Linked DNA regions of Homo sapiens. The protein of the gene in region 4 purifies or fractionates together with the protein of the main gene of each other region. This does not show direct contact. Each region holds a gene or a part of one and is shown on either strand. Other genes may lie near its edges. The genes, in order: TMEM192, SLC39A11, COCH, NTRK3, SH3BP4, ACAD10 and C1GALT1.

Region 1 (3,500 bases), on a different chromosome or scaffold from region 4:
ACCTCCCAGGTTCAAGCAATTCTCCTGCCTCAGCCTCCTGAGTAGCTGGGATTATAGGCGCCCACCACCACCCCAGTCATGCCCAGCTAATTTTTTTTTTTTTTTTTTGTATTTTTAGTACAGACAGGGTTTCACCATGTTGGCCAGGCCTGTCTTGGACTCCTGACATCAGGTGATCTGCCTGCCTCGACCTCCCAAAGTGCTGGTGTTACAGGCGTGAGCCACTGCACCTGGCCCAAATACATTTTGAACTCAAATATTATTAGGCCGGGCGCAGTGGCTCATGCCTGTAATGCCAGCACTATGGGAGGCCAAGGGGAGCGGATCACCTGAGGTTAGGAGTTCGAGACCAGCCTGGCCAACATGGTGAAGCCTCGTCTCTACTAAAAATATAAAAATTAGCTGTGTGTGGTGGTGCGTGCCTGTAGTCTAGCCTGGAGAGGCTGAGGCAGGAGAATCAGTTGAACCTGGGAGGCAGAGGTTGCAGTTAGCTGAGTTCATACCACTGCACTCCAGCCTGGACAACAGAGCAAGACTCTCAAAAAAAAAATTATATATATATATATGTATTTGGATCTAAGGAAGGAGAACAGATTAATCAGGTAAATATTTTCACTTGGTAGGAAAGCAAAGCCCTTTCTCCCATCTCCACCCAAAGGTAAATAATTTTTTTTCTTCTCTGGAAAATAACAAAATATATCAGGCTGAAGTTAATATTATCAGTACTGTTATCTGTAAGTCCTACATCCTACATCTCCATAGATTTATCTTTTTTTTTTTTTGCAAATAAGAAAAAATATTTTAAAAAATAGAAATAAGGTAAGTACCTGCTCCATTCCGTTTGATTTTCTGGGTTTTCACATGAGCCACATAAACGTGATATCACCTGTGATTCTAAAGGTCCAAGTGTTCAGAAATAGATTATGATTACGGCTCACATGTTTAACAAAAATTTGAAAGGCAGATTTTGGAAAGGTAAAGATCAAATAATCTCCTTGTGAGCTTCCAAAATACTATTTCCAGACCATCACTTGAGAAACTGAGTATTATTTTGGTCACAGATCATATAAGATCTTTTGTAGTTTAAAATTAAGTTTTTTCTTTTTTTTTAATCTTTGTGTTACCCTGACATCTTCTGGCCAAAAGAGAGAGCTGCACATCAACAGTTGAACATTCTCAAGCTCATTCTCACAAGAGGCAGGGAGCAATAAATGCTTCCCCTTCAAGAGCAGTCAGGATCACCCAACTCTATAAACTGCTTCACGCTGATATAGCATAGCCCTTCAGCTTCCACTGAGAATTTCACTGAGTAGATGAACTTGCAGCATGCCCTTTAAGAAAATGCACTAACAGGCCGGGCGCGGTGGCTCATGCCTGTAATCCCAGCACTTTGGGAGGCCGAGGCCGGCGGATCACAAGGTCAGGAGATCGAGACCATCCTGGCTAACACGGTGAAACCCCGTCTCTACTAAAAATACAAAAAATTAGCCAGGCGTGGTGGCGGGCGAATGCAGTCCCAGCTACTCGGGAGGCTGAGGCAGGAGAATGGCCTGAACCCGGGAGGCGGAGCTTGCAGTGAGCCGAGATAGCGCCACTGCACTCCAGCCTGGGTGACAGAGCGAGACTCCATCTCAAAAAAAAAAAAAAAAAGAAAAAAGAAAATGCACTAACAGAACAGAAGAAAAATAAAAGTTAAATTCTGTGGAGCCTTTTTTTTTTTTTTTTGGAGAAAAAAATCTCTAATTTGATCCAATTTTTTTTTCTTTTTTTATAGAGGGGGGTGTCACTCTTTCACCTAGGCTGGAGTGTGGTGCATAATCATAGCTCACTGCAGCCTCAAACTCCTGGGCTCAAGTGGATCCTCCCACCTCAGCCTCCCAAGTAGCTAGGACTACAGGCACAGGCTACCACACATGACTAATTTATTTATTTTATTTTATTTTACTTATTTATTTATTTATTTTGAAATAGAGATTTATTTATTTATTTAGAGATCGAGTCTCACTCTGTCACCCAGGTTGGAGTGGCACGATCTCAGCTTACTGCAATCTTGATCTCCCGGGTTCAAGCGATTCTCAGCCTCCTGAGTAGCTGGAATTACAGCCACCTGCCATCACACCCAGCTAATTTTTGTATTTTTAGTAGAGATGGGGTTTCATCATGTTGACCAGGCTGGTCTCAAACTCCTGACCTCAAGTGATCCTCCCGCCTCAGCCTACCAAAGTGCTGAGATGCTAGCATTACAGGCATGAGCCACCGTGCCCGGCCTTAATTTTTTTTTTAGACAGAGTTTCGCTCTTGTCACCCAGGCTGCAGTGCAATGGTATGATTGCAGCTCACTGCAACCTCTGCCTCCCGGATTCAAGCAATTCTCCTGCCTCAGCCTCCCGAGTAGCTGGGATTACAGTTGCCCGCCACCACGTTCAGCTAATTTTTGTATTTTTAGTAGAGACAGGGTTTCACCATGTTGGCCAGGCTGGTCTCGAACTCCTGACCTCAGGGAATCTACCCGCCTCGGCCTCCCAAAGTGCTGGGATTATAGGCGTGAGCCACCACGCCCAGGAATTTCTTTTTTTTTTTAAAACTTAACTTGGTGCTCATTTGTTACAGCACTAAATTTCTCATTTTTGGTAGAGATGGGGGAACTCACTATGTTGCCCAGGCTGGTCTCGAACTCCTGGCCTCAAGCAATCCTCCTACCTTGGCCTCCCAAAGCTCTGTGATTATAGGCATGAGCCACCATGCCCAGCCTGGATTCAAAAAAAATTTTTTTTTCTTTTTCCTTCTTTTTCTTTTTCTCGCTGCCTCCTCCAAGTAGGAAGACTACATATGGATTCAAGTTTTTTTTTCTTTTGAGGCAGTGTTCCGCTCTTGTTGCCCAGGCTGGAGTGCAGCGGCATGACTTCGGCTCACTGTAACCTCTGCCTCCCAGGTTCAAGCGATTCTCCTGCCTCAGCCTCCCAAGTAGCTGGGACTACAGGCGCGTGCCACCACACCCGGCTAATTTTCGTTTGTATTTTTAGTAGAGATGAGGTTTCACCATGTTGGCCAGGCTGGTCTCGAACTCCTGACGTCAGGTGATCCTTCCGCTTCGGCCTCCCAAAGTGCTGGGATTACAGGCATGAGCCACCGAGCCTGGCCTGGATTCAAAAATTTTTAAGATTTATTCTGGACTCAAATTGAAAAACAGGATCTTTTTAAAAGGTAGAAACTAAGTTATTTACTACAACTTTTTTTCTTTCTTTTTTTTTTTTTTTTTTTTGAGATGGGGTCTCACTCTGTCACCCAGGCTGGAGTCTGGAGTGCAGTGGCATGATCTCGGCTCAAGCAATTCTCCCACCTCAGCTTCCAGAGTAGCTGGGACCACAGGGGCACACCACCACACTTGGCTAATTTTTGTGTTTTTAGTAGAGAGGGGTTTCTCCATGTTGCCCAGGCTGGTCTCAAACTCCTGACCTCAAGGGATCTGCCCACCTCAGCCTCCCAAAGTGCTGGGATTA
Region 2 (3,500 bases), on a different chromosome or scaffold from region 4:
AGAGAGGGGGAGGGAATAAGGAAAGGAAAGGCAAATGAAGAAAGAGCATATCCCAAGGCTGGGGTCCCAGCTGGGACTGGGACAGGGACAGACAGGGAGGGAAGGTTCTCCAACCTGATCTGGGCTTCGGGGATGATGTCGTCCATGACCACGTAGACCATGGCACCGGCAGCAAAGGCCAGAGCGTAGGGCAGGATGGGCTCAGCCAGCACCACGGCAAAGGCACCAAAGACCCCGGCCAGGGGCTCCACCATGCCGCTCAGCTGCCCATACCTAAGGAGAGAACAGAGACATTTACCACCGCAGGGGGAGGCAAGCAGACACTCCACGTGCCCAGACTGTTGGCTCAACCCTAGCACATGGATGCATGCCATTCTACGTCATATCTGAGCATGGCAGTGCAAAAGCACATCACTGTTTTGTTGAAAGAAGCCCACATGGAGGATGCTGTGACATGGCCTTGCCCTTGGGCAGCACTCACCAGAAAGCTCTCCAGGTGGAGAAGCCTGCCCCTCGCAAGGGAAGGCTGACAGCCAGGCCCTCGGGGAAATTCTGGATCCCGATTCCAATGGCCAAATTCCTGAAAAACCAAGAAAGCACATGAAGGCTGCTGTCTGGAATAGGTGCTCACACAATGGGAGTCCCTGGCCGAGGCCAAGACCTCCGTGGGTGCTAGGAAGCCAGGAGGAGACCTGTGACCTGCAGTAGGAGAGGAAGGAGAAAGGTCAGGACGTGTGTCTAGGTAAAGAGCAGGGGCTGCAGGAGGGAGTGACGTGAGCCCTCTACCCATCATGCTGTCCTGGGTCCTGGGCAGGCTCTGTCCTTACAATGCTTTGCTACAGCACAGAACACACTGGCTGGCTCTCAGGGTGCCCTGAGTTCTGCCACGTGGCTGTATAACTGCACTTTTCATTTTACTTTCTACGCCTCTGTTTCTTTTTCTTTTTTTCTTTTTCTTTTTTTTTTTTTTTGAGATGGAGTCTCGCTCTGGAGACTCCAGGCTGGAGTGCAGTGGCATGATCTCGGCTCACTGCAACCTCCACCTCCCGGGTTCAAGTGATTTCCAGCTAATTTTTGTATTTTTAGTAGAGATGGGGTTTTACCATGTTGGCCAGGCTGGTCTCCAACTCCTGACCTCAAGTGATCTGCCTGCCTTGGCCTCCCAAAGTGCTGGGATTATGGGCGTGAGCCACGGCACCCAGCCTACACCTCTGTTTCTTGTATACAATTTAGGGACAACAATATCTACCATAAAGGATTGCTGAGTGACCCAGTGACCCAATAATGCCTATCACATCCTAGCATAGAGAGGTGCTTAATGCATTTTGGTTTCTATTCTGTTACAGCACAGAAATGAGTATATCACATTTTATTCAGAGGCCACTTCAGAAATGGGACAAGGAAGTGCAGCTGCAGACGCTGATGGTGCCACAGATCTGGCTCTGGGCTCAGCTTCTCCGTGGGCTCTGCAGGTCTGGCACCATCGCTGCATTTCTTTGGGCCCCAGTGGTGCTCACAGTGATCCTCTCACCTCCTGCCTCTGCAGGACAGTGACAGGCTGTGCTGATAGATGCCTGTCTTTGAGAAGCTGCTTTCTGCACAAACCAGGCATTGGAGTGTGAGAGGAGGGAGAAGCAAAATGGGATGCGTACAAATGCAATCTGTGACCACATGCCTGGCCTCAGGGGGCTTAGTATTTAGCCATGGAGACAACACAGGCATGTACATGAAGAACCCTTATTGTGGATGCTGCAAACTACAGCAAATCAGCCAAAAGTCAACTTGCACAGGAAACAGAGGCATGAGGGAAGCAGAGGAGGGAAATGGGGCCAGTCCGAGTGCCTTAGGAAGGCCCTTTTGCACGTGAGACTCTACCTTGGCCGGACAGTTCCAAGAAGCAGCCCCTCCATGAAGGGCCATCTGATCAACAATGATCTAAAGGGCGTGAGAAGAGGGTGCCACTCGGCAAGCAATGCTGGTGTGTGGCCCGAGGGAATTGTGGGTAGATTAGATAGAGAAGAGAAACTCCACCATCACCGACTTTCAGGTCAACTGGCTCACGTCCATCCATCTTGCTGCCAATAGGAATCTACCCATTGCTGCAAGGGAGTGTTGTAGACTGGTAGCTGGGACCCCTGCCTATGACCTGCCCCAGGCTCCCGGGACTGGGACACACTCGTGGCCCTGAAGGTCCTGTCAGGCCTGATCCGGCTGAGGCCCAAGTTCCAGCCTCTAACAAAGAACACCAAGGCGAATCCCCAGTTTAGCATCTGACCTCCATTTTGTTTCAGGGTTTGGCCTTTACCCTGTTTTTTTTACCTTTATCCCCCAACTCCTGCACATGTTTCATTGAGGTTCGTAGTTCCAGATACCTCAGGAAGAAGTAGCCCCCACCTCGAGTCTGCCAGTCAAGTAGACTCTTAGGAAAAGTCCAGCCCTAACAGAATCTCATACCTGTCACCACTTAGCTCACATGTGGTTCATAGAATTAGTGCCCATCCCTTTTTGACAAGATTACAATGAGCCCCTCAGCATCTACCCATCAGCTTAAAATCTGCCCCTGTGTGCAACAGCGTTGAGAGCCACTGGCCTAAGCAGGCATCATGGGAGGTGAGGATGAGGAAAGCAGTCAAGCCCACCCCCCTCCCAGGAGCCCCTTCCCTGCTATCCCAATTCCCAACACAGGCTGGGAGCCGAGGACACCTGTGGCCACTACTGAATGCATCAGGAGCCTGCAGCCCAGGGTGCTTACTGTATACAAGATCTGATGTGGAGAGCTCTGGAGGAGATCCGGAGCAACACAGGACAGGAGTAACAAAACAGGTGGCATTAGGGGACATGGATATGTAACAGAAGTGATGGAGAATAGTGAGCACCCCGTGGCAGGGATGGTCCCCCTAGGGTGGGGTTGGGGGAAGAAGCCCTGAGCTGACTTAGGAGCTGTGGGGCCTAGACTGGCTGGGGGTGGGAAACTGTGAAGAGGGACAAAGCAGCTTCCCCAGGGGGCATCTGAAAAGTGATAGCATCCGAAAACTGATCAGTTCCTTAATAAAGGAAATATTATGGTCTCTTGGGACTGACAGAAGCATTGAGCCTGTCTCTCCAACCTGCAGGCAGAACTGTTCATGAAGTGGAGTGGACAGACAAGAAGACACCCCACCACACCAGCCCAGGACATGTCCACAAAAGCTGCATCACTCAGCATTTCCCACGAGTCTACCCAAATCCCTGTCTATATCACCCAAGTTTGTGCTCTCCTTTGACTCCTTAGAGAGGGGCTCAAACATGCTCCAACTTCATCCCTGGATCTAGGGGGCAGCAAACTTTTTCTGTCATGGGCCAGATAGTAAATATTTGAGGTTTTGCAGTCCACTGAGTCTCTGTTGCAACCACTCAACTCTGACATTGCAGGTGCAAAAGTGGCTATGGACAGTACATAAACCATTGAGTGTGGCTGTGTTCCAATAAAACTTTATCTACACAAATGAGTGGGGGGCCAG
Region 3 (3,280 bases), on a different chromosome or scaffold from region 4:
TCCCAAAATAGAATTTTACTTGAAAAACTTTACATCAGCCAAAGATGTTTTGTTTGCCATAAAGGAAGTAGGTTTCAGAGGGGGTAATTCCAATACAGGTAAGTAGACTTTGATACCTGGGATGTAACATAGGAGAGGGTTATCAGTGATCAGACATGTAAAACAGTATTATGCTATTTTATATGAGCAGATGTGAAATCCTCCTGGAACTGAAATCTTGGCTAGGTCTGCATTTGATCATCTGAGATAAATTTTCAATTTATAATGGAAGTATACCAAAGTGTTGATATTTCTTATTTTAAAAAATATAAAGCATGGTGATTTAGAATTCTCATACATTGGATTGACTAGATATAACATTGGAGAAGTATCTCTTTGTAATGCTAAAAAGAAGTGAAAATCAACAGACTTATCTAATGAATGCAGATGTGGCAGAAAGAATGAGTAGCACTACCGTTGACTCTGAAGAGAGACTTCTTAGAGGTACTAATCAGTCACCAAAGGGCTACATAGAGAGCACATGCATGGAAGTGGGAATCAGTTTTGTGTTTCTAACTGGCGATTGATGTGGGGTAAACAAATGTGAGGCTTCTAGGAGGTGGAGGGGGAACTAATATGGCTTGTGAAGATAAATAGGCCTGGTAGATAATTAAACTTTCCCAGCTGATGCATCTGTTACAGAACTGGGTTCTATATAATTCTTTTTTGTGTGCCCCGCCCCACTGCCAGTTCTATATATAATTCTTAAACTTTGCAGCATCAAATGCTACAGGGAAACAGAAATGTGGTTTGAGCAGTGGTAAAGGCTATTTGTTTGCTTCTTTTTCAAATTTAGGAAAAGCCTTGAAGCATACTGCTCAGAAATTCTTCACGGTAGATGCTGGAGTAAGAAAAGGGATCCCCAAAGTGGTGGTGGTATTTATTGATGGTTGGCCTTCTGATGACATCGAGGAAGCAGGCATTGTGGCCAGAGAGTTTGGTGTCAATGTATTTATAGTTTCTGTGGCCAAGCCTATCCCTGAAGAACTGGGGATGGTTCAGGATGTCACATTTGTTGACAAGGTAAAGTGGTGAGGGTTATCTTCTGTTACAGTGATGGGTATTCCATTTTGGACCTCTAAGTGCAGTGCTGACTGCCTCTTATCTAGATTAACTTGAAACATTCAGGATTTTCCAGTTTTTAAGAAGAAACAACTTTTGATCCTTTTGGATATCTTTTATGTGTCTCCCCCATTAGGCTGTCTGTCGGAATAATGGCTTCTTCTCTTACCACATGCCCAACTGGTTTGGCACCACAAAATACGTAAAGCCTCTGGTACAGAAGCTGTGCACTCATGAACAAATGATGTGCAGCAAGACCTGTTATAACTCAGTGAACATTGCCTTTCTAATTGATGGCTCCAGCAGTGTTGGAGATAGCAATTTCCGCCTCATGCTTGAATTTGTTTCCAACATAGCCAAGACTTTTGAAATCTCGGACATTGGTGCCAAGATAGCTGCTGTACAGTTTACTTATGATCAGCGCACGGAGTTCAGTTTCACTGACTATAGCACCAAAGAGAATGTCCTAGCTGTCATCAGAAACATCCGCTATATGAGTGGTGGAACAGCTACTGGTGATGCCATTTCCTTCACTGTTAGAAATGTGTTTGGCCCTATAAGGGAGAGCCCCAACAAGAACTTCCTAGTAATTGTCACAGATGGGCAGTCCTATGATGATGTCCAAGGCCCTGCAGCTGCTGCACATGATGCAGGTAAGGTCCTTGTTCTTTATAGGAGAAGGGAACAGAAAAAACGGTTCAGTGAATTTAGGAGTAAATAAAAATTTAAGCATTTATTTCATTAAACAAACACCTGTGGCTTTACCCAATATTAACTGTTAAAGCAGCCCTACTCATCTCATTCTACAGATAAGGAAGCAAACTTCCTGGAAATGACATTTCTAGTAAGTGGCAAGGCCAAGATCCAAACCCAGGCATTCTGGCTCCAGAGTGCACATTCCTAACCACTGTATTGTTGGGAGAATTGCCATGAGAACCATGTCACATTAAGGAAATATGCTTATACATATACAATTAAGGTGCTCATATTTAGCTCAAACTTGGACTATATCTCCAAATAGCCAGCTTATAACCTACCATGAATCTGCCATTCAGTAATTTATCCTAACTTTCTTGTGTATGAAACAGGTAATTGCTCTGTCACCAGGCTGGAGTGCAGTGGCATGTAGTGAGCTACAACCTCCAACTATTGGGCTCAAGCAATCCTCCTGTGTCAGCCTTCCAAATAGCTAGGACGACAGGCACATGCCACTGCCCCTGGCTAATTTTTAAATTTTTTTGGGGAGAGACGGGGGTCTCACTTTGTTGCCCAGGCTGATCTCAAACTCCTGGGCTCAAGCAATCCTCACACCTTGGCCTCCCAAAGTGCTGGGATTACAGGCATAAGCCACCACACCCAACCCTAACTTTTATTTTAGTCAAGTTTTGTCTGGCATGAGTTTCCTAAGATAAGGTCTCCCATAGACTTTACCTATCCCATCAAAATTTCCTTGGCCAGGTGCAGTGGCTCACATCTGTAATTCAGCACTTTGGGAGGCTGAGGTGGGCGGGATCACCTGAGGTCAGGAGTTCAAGACCAGCCGGGCCAACATGGTAAAACCCAGTCTCTATTAAAAATACAAAAATTAGCTGGGTGTGGTAACATACACCTGTAATCCCAGCTACTCAGGAGGCTGAGGCACGAGAATCACTTGAACCCAGGAGGCAGAGGTTGCAATGAACTGAGATCGTGCCATTGTACTCCAGCCTGGGCGACAGAGTGAGACTCTGTCTCAAAAAGAAAAAAAAAAAAAAAAAAAAACTTTTTCCCCCCCGCTTAAGATAATAAAAACACACTCTGGTGTTATAAAAGGGTATAAGAAGGGTTTCTTTCTTCCTCACCCCAGCCTTAATATTACTTTTGGCACAGGCCTCGTTCCTGAAGACATTAACGTAATGTGTTAGAGATCAAATAGGCCAACAAAAAGCTAAGATTCCCTTTCTGAGGATATAACTGAGTGACAGGAGGGAAGAATCAATGGACTTGTTTTTTTTAACACTCTTCTGTACCTCATTTTCCCTACTTAATTCCTAATGACATAACCTTTTTCCTTTCTACACATTAGTACCTCTGCCAATGTACTCACATATTTTTACAGATACTGATGAAAGATTATTCTTAAAACAGAGAACACATGCAATTTAAGTTCCACATCTAGCTTGTAAAAAGTATTTTTTAT
Region 4 (3,500 bases):
ATAAGATTTCAATACCAAAAGGGTCTTGTGTTTACATTTTCCCAGCAAACAGAAGACCATAAAAAGAATTGCGATGTTTCATAGGGATGTTTCATAGGTCGACTGGGTTGAAAGACTGAGCTCCTTACTGCCTACAAACTGCACTGAATTCCCTGGGGCAACATGGCATGGTCCATGCATCACTGAGAAGCATCTTGATGGGCTTTGGAGGCAGAGGAGTCCTAGGATTACAGCCCAGGCTTTGTCCCTGCTTTGGAGGCTCTTACCTGTGAGACCCTGGCCAGCCCATTTCAGTACCTCAAGCAGACCCCCTTCCTTTAACCTGAATCTCAACAGGTGTTTTTGCAAAAATTACTGAATTAATAGAGCTAACATGCTTAGAAAAGTGCCTACCACTAAATGTCAGCTACTATTAATTTATGTTTACTAGCATTTTTTATTATTGCAAATTACAATTATAAAAAATATAATGGCTATTTATTACTAAGTTTAACAGTAAACATACTAATAAACATAGTAAAAACATAGTAATAAAATAAACACGGTTTATTTTATTCCTAGACGTTCACACATGACTCTACCAGTTATAAAACTGGTCTTCCCAAATTGACCATCTGGTACATCCCTGGGCTTGGCATACCTAAAACCTTTGTGCACCCAGATTATGTGGGCATACTAAGTAGTGGGTGTTTCCACAAGATGGCACAATTGAAAAACTCATAGCTGTTCTGTTTTCCTTTTTTGTCATAGTGAAACATTTGTGATTTTTAAGGGTAGCAGATTTAACAGAGGCATGACTTGAGTCTCAATTTAGACCTCTGATTTCATGCTCTTTTGACAATTACACCACATTTCCTACAGTTCCATTTTTTTTTTCCTACTAAGAAGCTCTCTGCTCCCACTAATGCCTGCATTCACTCTGCTGGCTCTAAATCCCACCTAATGTCTTGTTCAGTAGGTCCAAGTTCTGGGCTGAGATAGCTCTTATGAGCCCTCCCCCAATCAAGATTCCTACGCACCCCCTTTTTACCTCCGTGTTTGAGAGTTGGAACCATGGCTGCTTTCCATAGGTGAAGATCTCCCAGAGGATCACCCCGAAGCTCCATACATCACTCTCTGTAGTGAACTTCCGGTACATGATGCTTTCAGGAGGCATCCAGCGAATGGGGAGCATGGTGTGTCCTCCCACCTAAAAGGGGTTGAGATAGAGGCACACAGAGTGACCAGATGGCCAGAATGAGTGTTATCTGTCTGCACTCTTCACACATAGATGCACTCTTGATGCATCCTATTCTAAGATAGTCACAGCTTTATGCAACTTCTATCAGAGGTGTGTGAAGATGCTGACTTTGGAGACCTACGATAAAGGAGACAGCTAGACTAGCAACTAGAGGTAACACCTGAGGGAAGGTAGGTTCCTTGGCACTCAGTGTGTAGAAAGATCAAGGTAATCTGAAGTGAGAGAGAAGGTTTCAGAATCTAGCACTACAGAAAAATCTAACCTTAAGAGCAAGTCCAGCAAGAAGTCAGCAGAATGACTAAGCCAGTCACCAAGGATCAGTATCTGCAAACATCAGGTTAGATTCTTGGCTGCAGTGGCACAGTATATTCCATGTGCATCTGATCTGCAGAACTTTAGCTTCTAACTGACAATCTCGAATCTCTCACCACAATTTAGGACTCAGTGTTTCAAGTGAAGGAGACAGAGACATTCCAAAAGCGTGGAAGACCACGTGCTAATAAGGTAGGAGATGGACAGAAAGAGAATTCACCACAGTTCTTAGTAAGATCTCAAAGGACAGTAGGGAGAGTCTTTAAAAATAGCCTAAGGAGGATATCAACCACCTGTGAATCTGCCAAACTGAAAGCCAAGGGGAAAAGGAAGTGACTGACAAGGATAAACACCCAGGGTACCCTTTACTGAGAAAAACATTAGGGAACTCCTCTTTGCCCAGCAGGCTAGAGATGTTAGCATAAGTGGGAGAAAATTCACAGCATGTGTGAAAACTCAGGAACTAACTGCATCATTAGTAAATAGATTTTCAGGAACTGAAACTTTTGCCTAATACATGGAACTCATTGTTAAAAAAACTACTTAATATTGAAAAAAGAGTTGTCTATTTATGTCCGGATGAGGTATTACTTAAAGTTCTCATTTCCTTCTTTCTTATTTATTTATTTATTTATTTATTTATTTTGAGACGGAGTCTCGCTTTGTCACCCAAGCTGGAGTGCAGTGGCGCGATCTCGGCTTACTGCCAGCTCCACCTCCCGGGTTCACGCCATTCTCCTGCCTCAGCCTCCCGAGTAGCTGGGACTACAGGTGCCCGCTGCCACACCCGGCTAATTTTTTGTATTTTTAGTAGAGACGGGGTTTCACTGTGTTAGTCAGGATGGTCTCGATCTTCTGACCTCGTGATCCGCCTGCCTCGGCCTCCCAAAGTGCTGGGATTACAGGCTTGAGCCACCGCGCCCGGCCTAAAGTTCTTATTTCTATGGGGGGTCAGTTAGAGAAATAATAACAATGAATAATTAAGAACGAATAAGTTGGGAGATGGGCAATCTTGTTTCCAAAAAGGGAAATCATGTTTGCCTTAACCACTTGAAGAATTTTAGGAGGTAAATTATAATACAAGTTTGCAGAGCAGTTCTTTTCTTTTCTTTCTTTTTTCTGAGACAGAGTTTCACTCCTGCTGCCCAGGCTGGAGTGCAGTGGCGCGATCTCCGCTCACTGCAACCTCCGCTTCCTGGGTTCAAGCGATTCCCCTGCCTTAGCCTCCTGAGTAGCTGGGATTATAGGCATGAAACACCATGCCTGGCTAATTTTTGTATTTTCAGTAGAGACGGGGTTTCACCGCATTGGTCAGGCTGGTCTCAAACTCCTGACCACAAGTTATACACCCACCTTGGCCTCCCAAAGTGCTGGGATTACAGGCGTGAGCCACTTTGCCTAGCCAGAAAAGTTATTTTCAACCTGGGACTTTCTAATCAGGATAGTTTTGTATCCAGTGTAAAGAAAACTGAAGATACTTCTTTCAGACAAGCAAAGACTCAGAAAGCTTACCACTCACATCCTTTCAGAAAATATAGGAGCCAAGCTAATTGAATACATATTCTAGAAAAACAGTAAAAATAACCCAAGCTATGCAATTATTGGAACATAACAAAAAATGCAGAGCAAATAAGCCACAAAAATGCAATTTAAATTTGAATAATGGTTGTTAATTTGGTAGTAAAAGTAATACAATTACTAATAAAGGCTTCCTGTAAAATAGAGACATAAAGTAAATAATAATACTAATAATGCTATTAGTACTACCACTGATACAACTAACATACTTATCTGGAATGAAACTTTCCAATAATTTCAACCATAAATGCATAGAAGAGTAGATATAGAAATAATTAAAAGCCTGATAAAGGCTGTATGTTATAGAAAGGAAAAAAGAAGCTTACAGTGATTAATTGTTGAGATTAACACTTTAAATTTAAATATGCTT
Region 5 (3,500 bases), on a different chromosome or scaffold from region 4:
CGTTGGGGTTCTGGGAGGTGATGGGGAAGATCAGGCGGCTCACCTTGCCCAGCTTCAGCTGGAATCCTCGCACCACTTTGGCCTGCTCGCTGGCTTTGACCTCGTAATTCGTCATATTGGAAAACATACAGACCTTGAGATCCTGGGGCCTGGACAAAACGAACTGGTGCTTCCCCCACAGCTGCAGGGCCACCGGGGCAGGGTTGGGTGCCTGGCGTGTGACCTCGCTGACCAGGAGCGTCTTTGGGGCACAGTCATGCCCAAAAATGGTCACTACCGTCTTGAAGGATGGGTGGATGTGTTTAGGGCCGTAGAGACCCACTGTGACTTTTTTATTGATGAAGTCCCACACGGTGGAAGGGTAGAGGATGCTTGGGCCATGGGCCACGACAGCCACGTACATACAGGGCTCCAGGTTGTGCAGCTGTGCCTGGACCGTGTCCCCACAGCTGCAGTTGAGCGGGACGGAGACATATGGCCCTTCCTTCGAGTCGCTCCTCAGGCACTGGAGGCCCACTGTGCTTTTGCTAAAAAGGTCATTTTTTATCTCGGCTGACACTTTCATCTCCAAGATGATAGAGGTTTTCACCTCCAGGTTGCTCAGCTTGACCTCCAGCACAGGGCTGATGCTGCAGGACCTGTCACTGTTGAGCTCCAGCGGGGGGTCCAGCAGGGCTTTCATGGAGATCTGCTGGGTCTCCCCAGGGGCGACGTGGCCCTCGGGCACGTGGATGCTGATGCTGGTGTCAGGAAGCTGGACAGCACCCCCGGAGCTATCCAGCTTGCACACGATGTTTGTCTCCACGGCTTGGGTCTGGCCCCAACCAGGGCTTTGGCCAAGCAAGTCCAGGTCGTGGCAAGACCGGGCCAGCTTCCTGTGGTTTAGCCAGGCAGTTCGAAAATCCTCCCGGCTCTGAAATTGCTCGGGGGCAGGTGATTTCAAGCCGGTGAAGAAACTCGACGATGTGGGAGCATCGGACTTGGCTTGGAGGACGGAGAGTTCCGAGAGACTGTAGGAGCGCTTGCTTCTGAAGAAGGGGTTGTCCCGCCTGACCGGCGGCTCTGCGTGGAGTCCGTTTGTGACTGGAAGCTCATCGAAGATGTTGCCAGTGCTATTCGTGGTGGCTGAGCTGGATTCGGTGAAGGAGGATGTACCTGCGTCAAAAAGGAGCAAATCCACAGTACTTTTGGGATTCAGCTCATCCAGGCTGGGCATGACGGGCACGTTCCCATTCAGAAATGGATTGGTCTGGACCCCATTCCAGAAAGGGTTATTACTGTACATTCTGCCTGGTACTTTTTTGTCATCTGTCCATCCCCCGAGCAGCTCCAGCTCCTTGGCTACCTCGTCTGGGCTGTCTGGAAGATTATCAATCATACCGCTGTCACTCAGTGTTGAGTTCCGGTAGTTCAAGGGCTGCACATAGGAGGAGGGGATGTAGCCCATTTCGGTGGTGTTGTGTGCGTACCACCACTCACCGCCAGATGTGTCCAAGACGTAGAGATGGTCGCCCTTGGAGAACTTCAGTGTGGTGAAGTTGGTGGGGCAATAGTCCTTGATCGCAATCACTTCCTTTGCATTTCCGAAAGGTGTGGGGTTGTCTACGAGCAAGGCACTGGGAGAAGGCACTGTGCAAAACACAAAGAAAACAGATGGTGAGGGCAAGGCCGGCGGGGTGTCCGGAGAGCTTCCCAAAGGAGAGAGGACGGTGGTAAACAGACAGGTGCACAATAACCCAGGCAAGTCACCAACAGAAACAAACCAAAGTGAAATTCAGTAGGTAATTTACCTGGCCAACGAACTGGTTCCTGCTACTTGGTCACCTTCAAAATCGACAGCCTATGTCCGGCAGAAAGACCACAGAGGAGCCTCTCCATCACTCACAGAAAGGCAAATCAGTGCAATGGAATATTTAACATGCCCTACGCCCTAAACATCTCATTTTGGGCAACGTTAAAATTCTTCTTAAAAGAACTGCTACTAGATACAAAGAGAAACTGAATGTGATTAACTTAGAAAACACGGTGACACGGTGAGTTAGGTGACCACTGCATGTGATCAGGGACTGGAAATGAACAGATTCCAAAAACTCCCGCAATGACATGTATGAGCTGATTCCAAGCTCTGCCTCTGGATGGAAAGCTTCCCTCAACCTGCTTCTTAAATTTCCAAACTCAACCTGTTCCTCACCAAACTGTTTCCTCAGATAAAGTAAGAATTCTGAAGTCAGTTCCTTCCAACCTCTTTTATTCTTATTTTACTTATTTATTTATTTATTTATGAGACAGTGTCTCACTCCGCCACCCAGGCTGGCATGTATTGACATGATCTCAGCTCACTGCAACCTCAGCCGCTCAGATTCAAGTGATTCTCCTGCCTCAGCCTCCAAAGTAGCTGAGATTACAGGTGTGTGCCACCATGCCTGGCTAATTTTTGTATTTTTAGTAGAAATGGGGTTTCATCATGTTGACCAGGCTGGTCTCAAACTCCTGACCTCAAGTGATCCTCCCGCCTCAGCCTCCCAAAATGATGGGATTACTGGTGTGAGCCACTGCGCCTGGCCCAACCTCTTTTAAATTATCATTCAAAATCACAACATGAAAACAGACTGTCTACATACCTTGAAAATGAGAGATTATGCCTAGTCATAGCTCATACTATCATTGAACAAGTGTTGAAGCAGTCTGAAAAATTCCAACCCTTCAAAAAGTGAATCAAGTTAATTCATGGCTCCTGCCATTGAACTCTGTATGTTACCAATGTAGACGGCAAATGAAACAGCAAAAATAAGTCAGCCAAACAAGTGGTGTGTTTTGAAAAATAATGGATATGATTAAATGAGAAGATATATTCAGAAGATGAAGAACACTCTTTCTGAAGAAAATAAGCACATATACTTCTCCCCAGGACTCCCCTCCCCCACCTCCCAAACTGCCTCACTTACGGAGTCTGCTGACATTCTGGCTTCCCGTAATAAACAATTGAAAGAAAGAAAGGAAACGTTTCTTTCTTTCTTTCTTTCTTTTTTTTTTTTAAGTTGCCAAAGCAAATGACCAAAGAAAGGAATCCGTTTTTAGTTAAACTAAACCTACATCTTTTCTAATGTGATGAAGTCCACAGTCATCGTATTCTATCAAATTGCCCCCCCGACCCCAGAAAATCACCTGCCAGTTTCCTTTTCCTTTGAAAGGAAATAATCACACTTCCTTGGGAAAGTGTTAGGAAATCAGGTAGACAGTTTCTATTCATTTACATTAACTGGGTTACAGAGATGCGCTTAGCTGGGAGCATCCCTGGGCCTTGAAGCCCCACCTACCTCCTCCTGTGAAATTACAGCAGGCCCGTCTATCTGGGTGTCTCAGAGAACCCGGCTCTGGGATCACTAAACCCAGACTCGAGTGGAGCCCTTAGAAACTGTGTGATCTCCAGAGCCTAAGACTCCACTCATGGTGGACAAAAAGTGTATTTCCTCAATGAGCTTTGGAGAGGACAAAATGCA
Region 6 (2,774 bases), on a different chromosome or scaffold from region 4:
CCTTCAGTGTGTGCTGGCTGTGTTCCCCGTCATCTGGGAAGACAGCCACATTCTGCCAGCACTTGCTTCGCATCTTGTGACATAAGATAATAGTTGCCAACATGGCGCCCTTCATCCCTGGGTGCTGTCAAGCCGTACACCAGGCAGGGGCAGCCTCACCCAGCTCACATCAGCGAGACCTTGGGGCCTCTGTTTTGGACGGTGGTGTTTGACTTCTTGCTGGGAATCTGATCATTCTTCCAGGCTTTCTGCCTTCGGGTCTTTTTTGTGGTTTAGTTTTTCGTTTTGTTTTTGAGAGACAGAGTCTCACTCGGTGGCCCAGGCTGGAGTAGAGTGGCACAATCTTGGCTCACTGCAACCTCCGCCTCCCGGGTTCAAGCAGCTCTCTTGCCTCAGTTTCCCAAGTAGCTGGGACTACAGGTGTGCACCATCACGCCCAGCTAATTTTTGTATTTTTTAGTAGAGACTGGGTTTCACTATATGTTGGCCAGGTTGGTCTCAAACTCCTGACCTCAGGTGATCTGCCCGCCTCGGCCTCCCAAAGTGCTGGAATCACAGGCCTGAACCACCGCGCCTGGCCTGTTGTTTGTTTTTGAGAGGGGGTCTCACTCTGTTGTCCAGGCTTGAGTGCAGTGTTGCAATCTCAGCTTACCACAGCCCCCAACTTCCCAGACTCAAACAATCCTCTCACCTCAGCCTCCTGAGTAGCTGGGACTACAAGCACATGCTACCACACCCTGCTAGTTTTTGTATTTTTAGTAGAGATGGGGGACGGGGGGGCCTCACTCTGCCACCCAGGCTGCCCTCGGGTCTTTTATGATCGCATCTCCTCCTCCTTACAGGCTGCAGCCTTGGATATAGCCATGATTAAAATGGTCGCCCCGTCCATGGCCTCCCGAGTGATTGATCGTGCGATTCAGGTGAGCACAGACCAGACAGTTGGCTTATTTGAACCATCAATACTAGATGCCAAACTCTCCTATCTTCAGCCGCCCAGCCTCCCATAGACCCTGGCAGATGCCCTGTGTCACCCACTCACCATGCATGCAACTTTCCTTTTCCTCTTCAGAATGACCCAGCAAGGTGGGAGGTGCCATCGTACCCCCATTTTGAATGTGAGGAAACAGGCACAGAAAAGTGAAGTGACTTGTCCAGGTCACTGAGCTTGCAAGTAGCTGACCTCAAATTCACATGAACTTGGGTTTTCATAAGCCCAGAGCCCAGGCTCTTTCCCATGCAGGGGGGCCGCCTCCTTAGATCCTAACCCCCGGCCCCAGCACAGGGCAGAAGGCACCTGCAGAGTGGGCCTGGGGAGTCTGGAGGCCGTGGGATGGCAGGTGTGGCCCCATGGAAGCCCTCTGGAATATTAGTGATTGTATCACATAGGTGCCACAGGGAAGTCCGGGAAGATGGTTGTTATGGGCCATCAAGAGCAGGCTATCATTCCTGGGGCTCTCGGAGACAAGGGCTGACCCAGGGCCGCCTCCCTCCACTCTGTGTCTGCCAGGCCTTTGGAGCAGCAGGCCTGAGCAGCGACTACCCACTGGCTCAGTTCTTCACCTGGGCCCGAGCCCTGCGCTTTGCCGACGGCCCTGACGAGGTGCACCGGGCCACGGTGGCCAAGCTAGAGCTGAAGCACCGCATTTAGAGCCTTGGGGCTGCAGTGGCTCAATGTCCTGGCTGGTCCAGCTGTGCCCAGATCTGTCACTGATGTGCCTCGAAAGATCCGGTGTTTGTGGCTCCTGCACCCTGCTCAGCAGCTCTGTCCCGGGACAGTCAGGGTGGACTCAATCTTTCTGGTTCTCCACAGAAGACGTCTCTGCAAGAAGCCTGGAGTCTGTTTCAGGCCAGGAGGAGGGGATTTGCTGAGGGCCAAGGGGGTTCTGGGACAGAGTCTGGAAAGCTGGTCTTCAGGCTCTCAGTCCCAGGCTGGGCAGGCACGGTCACTTCACTTCAGCCTTTCAGTCCCTCTCTCTCTGCCTGTGGGAATCTGGACACATTTTGGGAGGCCTCCCAAGGCTGTGGGACGTGCTTGCTCTGGCAGCTGCAGGGTTCCTGTCTGGCCTCCCTGGTGAGCAGAGGGGCGGCCACGGCGGGCGGTGGCCTAGAGACCCAGGACCTGGGCGCCTGGGAAAATGGAATGCAACCCACATTGTAAAGCCACTGGCATCTGATTATCTCCATTTGAACACACAGCACAGAACAATCATTTAAATGTTATTTTGGAAAGGGGTTTTGGGGACACAGAAGAATAAGTAAACACATCTCGGAGGCTTTGTGGACTTTCTGTGTCATACAAAGAGAATCGAGTGGAGAGGTTCCCTTCAGCGCCTTCATGCCTCCTCCTGCCTGTGTTTCCTCGAGGTCCAGGCCATCATCTCAGCCCCATACATGCTGGGAGCACAGAGGCCACGGGTCCGATAAGTCCCGAGTTGGCTGCCTTCCCTCACTATGTAGCCCGGGGCTCTGTGCTCATACATACTTTACCCAGGAGCTGGCATGTGAGGCCCCTGCAGCCTCCACCTGCTCCATAGTCAGAATATCTGGGCGAAGGGGAGGTGGTGGCCCATTCGCCATTACACTTTGGAGCACAATCTCTCTTCTCTGAGGAGAGTGGAAATGCTTACTCACTTGCAGTCTGAGCTCCTTGAGAAACCCAGCGACATGCAGAGGTGAGCCAGGGGCAGTGAGGCCCCAGCCTGCTCGTCTCATAACTCGTGGTGGGGTAGCCAAAACTCGTCTCAGGTTAGACCAGACGGGCAGGAACCATCCCC
Region 7 (3,500 bases), on a different chromosome or scaffold from region 4:
ATGTAAAGAAAACAAAAGGAACAAACCTAAACAAATGAAAGAAAATCATAGACAGAAAAGAGTAAATTTTCTTTACCATCTCTACCACTATCTCTCCCCAAAAGTAACTGCTTTCGTATCGTTGGGTAATGCCTATATCATCACATATGTATGTTCAGCTTTTAATTTACATCAGAGATCATGCTTATCGGTTAGTCTGCACTTTAATTTACCCCTTCACTTATTTTATCCATAACACAATGTCATTCATTTTAACAACTGTATAAGATAAAAGGTTTATTTTTTAAGACAATGTACCGAAATATTTTCTAGTATGATTTCACTTGGCTTTTTAAATGTTTCTGTATATATTTTAAAATCTGTTAAGATATATATACATATGATATTTAACAAGAGCTATCTCTGGGAACTAGCACTGGGTGGCATGAGCAAGGAAGGACAAATTTTTTTTTATTTTATAACCTTTTGATGTTTTAATTTTGCATCGGGTACACACATTACTTTTCTGATAAAAATTAAATAAAGGGAGGCAATTTTTATCTACAGAGTGAAATAATATGATAAAAATTAAAGTCCACTAATTTCTCCACACTTGTCAAACAAAATGATCTCTTGATCCTTTCAGACTTCTCCAAGTTTCAGATTCACATACACAAATGCCTGCTAAATACTTCCACCTGGACCATAGGCATCTCTAATTCAACACCTCCAAAGTGACTCATTACTTTCCTCTGCTCATTTTACCTTAATTACTGGTAATTACCTAAATTATTCACCAATGGGTTCCTATTTCACTCAGAGCCACAGGATTATCTAAACTACAAAGTACACAGATATTCTTAATGCTTCCCTTATCTTCACCCCAAATCCAATTACCAAGTCTTGCCAACATTACTTCCTAAATATTATTCTAATCCATTGTCTCCTCTCCATTTCTAGTATTTATCCTATTTCAGACTCTCCTCTCTCCCCACAGGCTATTACAATATCTAACCTCTCTGACTCAAGTGCTATCCCTCTTTAACTCATACCCCGTCACCAGAATGAGCTCTCTAAAATGAAAAGCTGACCATGTCACCCCATGAATCCTTTCACGGAACTCCACTGCCTACAAGACAAAAACTAAACATTTTTTATTAACATGATATATAAATAAAGGCTATGACCTAGAGCCTGTCCAGGTTTCCAGCCTCGTCTTTTGCTATTCTGTGCCTTATAATTTATGTCTGCTTCAGCAATCCTGAACTGTCTACAGTTACTGAAAGGTTCCCAATATGGTCAGCTCCTCTTCCTACTGTCTTCTCTGACTACAACACTTGCTTCCCACCAACCTCTGTAAATCCCATTAAACTAAGGTTTCTTAACCTTGGCGCTACTGACATTAAGAGCTGGATAACTCTCTGTTGTGGAAGCCGTCCGGTCCTCTGTAGGATATTTAGCCAGCATCCCTGGCCTTTACTCACTAGATGCCAGTAGTATTCCCCCTAGTTGTGACAAACAAAAATGTCTGTAGACATTGCTAAATGTTTCCAGGTAACAACCTCTCCACTAATTTGTTAAAACTGTTTCTCACATTTACATAAAAGATCTCCCCTGTCTCTACTAAAAATACAAAAAAAAAAAGAAATTAGCTGGGCATGGTGGCAGGTGCCTGTAGTCCCAGCTACTGGGGAGGCTGAGGCAGGAGAATGGCGTGAACCCAGGAGGCAGAGCTTGCAGTGAGCTGAGATCGCGCCACTGCACTCCAGCCTGGGCGACAGAGTGAGACTCCGTCTCAAAAAAAAAAAAATCTCAGGAAGAATAGAGATAAGACTACTTTTAACACTAATTGCCTTTGAGGAGGACAACTGGGTAACTGGAGTGGGATGAAAAAAACTTACTTTTCAAACCATTTACTGTGCGTTTTTAGTCTTGTACCTCTTCTGACTTCTCCACTGCTATCACCCTGGTCTGAGCAACCTCTCTGTCTTTTAACTACTCCAACAACATTCTAACCAACTTTCCCCTTCCTTTAGCCTTTGCTTCTTTGGCCCATTTTTACCAATAGCCACAATGATCCTTTTAAAACTGAAATCAGATCACATCACTCATTTGCTCAAAACCCTCCCGTCTTCCTAATCTTAGAGAGCCAAAACCTTACAAGGATCTACCCACAATCTGCATCCTACTCCACCCCTTTCTTTCTGATCTCTTCTCCCCAGTATTTGGTGTTTTTGTAGGTCAAAAATGAACAAACAGCAGCAATTTCATAGATTGAACCTAATACTAACTGCTTGTCATTCCTCAAACGTGCCAGGGTCTTCACACTTAACTGTTCTCTGCTAAGAACACGCACCCAGGTGCTCATATGGCTCACTCTCCAACTCCTTCAGGTCTTTACTTTTCAGGAGTCTTCACTGGCCACCCTATGCTTACCCACAGCACCTATTAATATCAAATATTATTTTACTTATTCATCTTGTTTACTGTCTCTTTTCCATCTTGATCAGTGGTTCTGAAACCTGAGTCTCCATCAGAATCATTTGGAAGGCTAGTTAAATAAAGAGTTCTGGGATGGAGCCTGAAAATTTCAATTTCTAACAACTTCCCAGGTGATGATGATGCTGCAGATCCAGGGACCACATTTTTAGAACCCGTGTTTCAGAATGTAAGCTCCATGAGGACAGAGATTTTTGCCTATCCACTGTTTTATCTCCAGGACCTGGCACATAGTAAGCACTTGCTGTGGTCTGAATGTTTGTCTCCTCCAAAACTCATGTTGAACCTTAATCACCACTGTGGCAGTATTGAGAGCTGGAGTCTTTAAATGGTGACTGGGTACTAAGGGTTCAGCCCTCATGAATGGGTTATCATGGGAAAGGAACTGGTAGCTTTACAAGAAAGAAAGAAAGAAAGAAAGAGTTCTGGGCTAGCATGCTCGGCCCCCTCACCATGTGGTGCCCTGTGCTATCCTCAGGACTCTGCAGAGTCCCTACCAGCAAATGCCCTCACCAGATGTGGCCCCCTGAACCAGGACTTTTCAGCCTTCCTAACTGTAAGGAATAAATTTCTTTTCTTTATAGATTATCCAGTTTCAGATATTCTGCTAGAGGCAACAGAAAACAGATTAAGACATCACTGATATATGTAAATAAATGTAAGTGTCCCATCCTGTTTCCACTATAGCCTCTGATTCAGTCTATAATGCTAAACATTTACTGAACGATGTAAAAGATAAACCGTGCAACTGTTACAGGTTAAACTGTGTCCCCACAAAAGATAGGTTGAAGTCCTAATTCCAGTACCTCTGCACGTGACCTTATTTCAAAATAGGGTCTTTGCAGATGTAATCAAGTTAAGATGAGGTGATTAGGGTGGATCTTAATCCAATACGACTAGTATCCTTGCAAGAAGTGGAGCACACCATCTGAAGACAGAGCCACACAGGGATTATGTTGTGATAACAGAGTCACAGACTGGAGTGACATAGCTGCAAGCCAAAAAATGCTAAGGATTGGCAG

What was found.
Region 1: the proteins of NTRK3 (region 4) and TMEM192 purify together in Homo sapiens (affinity purification with mass spectrometry; 2 studies listed by BioGRID and IntAct, with this or other methods). This does not show direct contact.
Region 2: the proteins of NTRK3 (region 4) and SLC39A11 purify together in Homo sapiens (affinity purification with mass spectrometry; 2 studies listed by BioGRID and IntAct, with this or other methods). This does not show direct contact.
Region 3: the proteins of NTRK3 (region 4) and COCH purify together in Homo sapiens (affinity purification with mass spectrometry; one large-scale study listed by BioGRID and IntAct). This does not show direct contact.
Region 5: the proteins of NTRK3 (region 4) and SH3BP4 purify together in Homo sapiens (affinity purification with mass spectrometry; 2 studies listed by BioGRID and IntAct, with this or other methods). This does not show direct contact.
Region 6: the proteins of NTRK3 (region 4) and ACAD10 purify together in Homo sapiens (affinity purification with mass spectrometry; 2 studies listed by BioGRID and IntAct, with this or other methods). This does not show direct contact.
Region 7: the proteins of NTRK3 (region 4) and C1GALT1 purify together in Homo sapiens (affinity purification with mass spectrometry; one large-scale study listed by BioGRID and IntAct). This does not show direct contact.

Annotation. Positions count from the first base shown.
Region 1 is NC_000004.12:165,095,861-165,099,360, forward strand, and holds part of TMEM192 (transmembrane protein 192), read right to left. Parts: intron 1-3,500.
Region 2 is NC_000017.11:72,648,689-72,652,188, forward strand, and holds part of SLC39A11 (zinc transporter ZIP11), read right to left. Parts: intron 581-3,500; coding exon 482-580; intron 274-481; coding exon 115-273; intron 1-114. UniProt on the Homo sapiens protein: Zinc importer that regulates cytosolic zinc concentrations either via zinc influx from the extracellular compartment or efflux from intracellular organelles such as Golgi apparatus. May transport copper ions as well.
Region 3 is NC_000014.9:30,884,559-30,887,838, forward strand, and holds part of COCH (cochlin isoform b precursor), read left to right. Parts: coding exon 1-98; exon of another isoform or gene 99-116; intron 117-426; coding exon of another isoform or gene 427-483; intron 484-835; coding exon 836-1,062; exon of another isoform or gene 1,063-1,237; coding exon 1,238-1,754; exon of another isoform or gene 1,755-1,768; intron 1,769-3,280. UniProt on the Homo sapiens protein: Plays a role in the control of cell shape and motility in the trabecular meshwork.
Region 4 is NC_000015.10:87,879,240-87,882,739, forward strand, and holds part of NTRK3 (NT-3 growth factor receptor isoform a precursor), read right to left. Parts: intron 1,190-3,500; coding exon 1,031-1,189; intron 1-1,030. UniProt on the Homo sapiens protein: Receptor tyrosine kinase involved in nervous system and probably heart development.
Region 5 is NC_000002.12:235,039,017-235,042,516, reverse strand, and holds part of SH3BP4 (SH3 domain-binding protein 4), read right to left. Parts: intron 1,630-3,500; coding exon 1-1,629. UniProt on the Homo sapiens protein: May function in transferrin receptor internalization at the plasma membrane through a cargo-specific control of clathrin-mediated endocytosis.
Region 6 is NC_000012.12:111,754,826-111,757,599, forward strand, and holds the end of ACAD10 (acyl-CoA dehydrogenase family member 10), read left to right. Parts: intron 1-842; coding exon 843-920; intron 921-1,507; coding exon 1,508-1,648; 3' UTR 1,649-2,274; downstream 2,275-2,774.
Region 7 is NC_000007.14:7,185,544-7,189,043, reverse strand, and holds part of C1GALT1 (glycoprotein-N-acetylgalactosamine 3-beta-galactosyltransferase 1), read right to left. Parts: intron 1-3,500. UniProt on the Homo sapiens protein: Glycosyltransferase that generates the core 1 O-glycan Gal-beta1-3GalNAc-alpha1-Ser/Thr (T antigen), which is a precursor for many extended O-glycans in glycoproteins.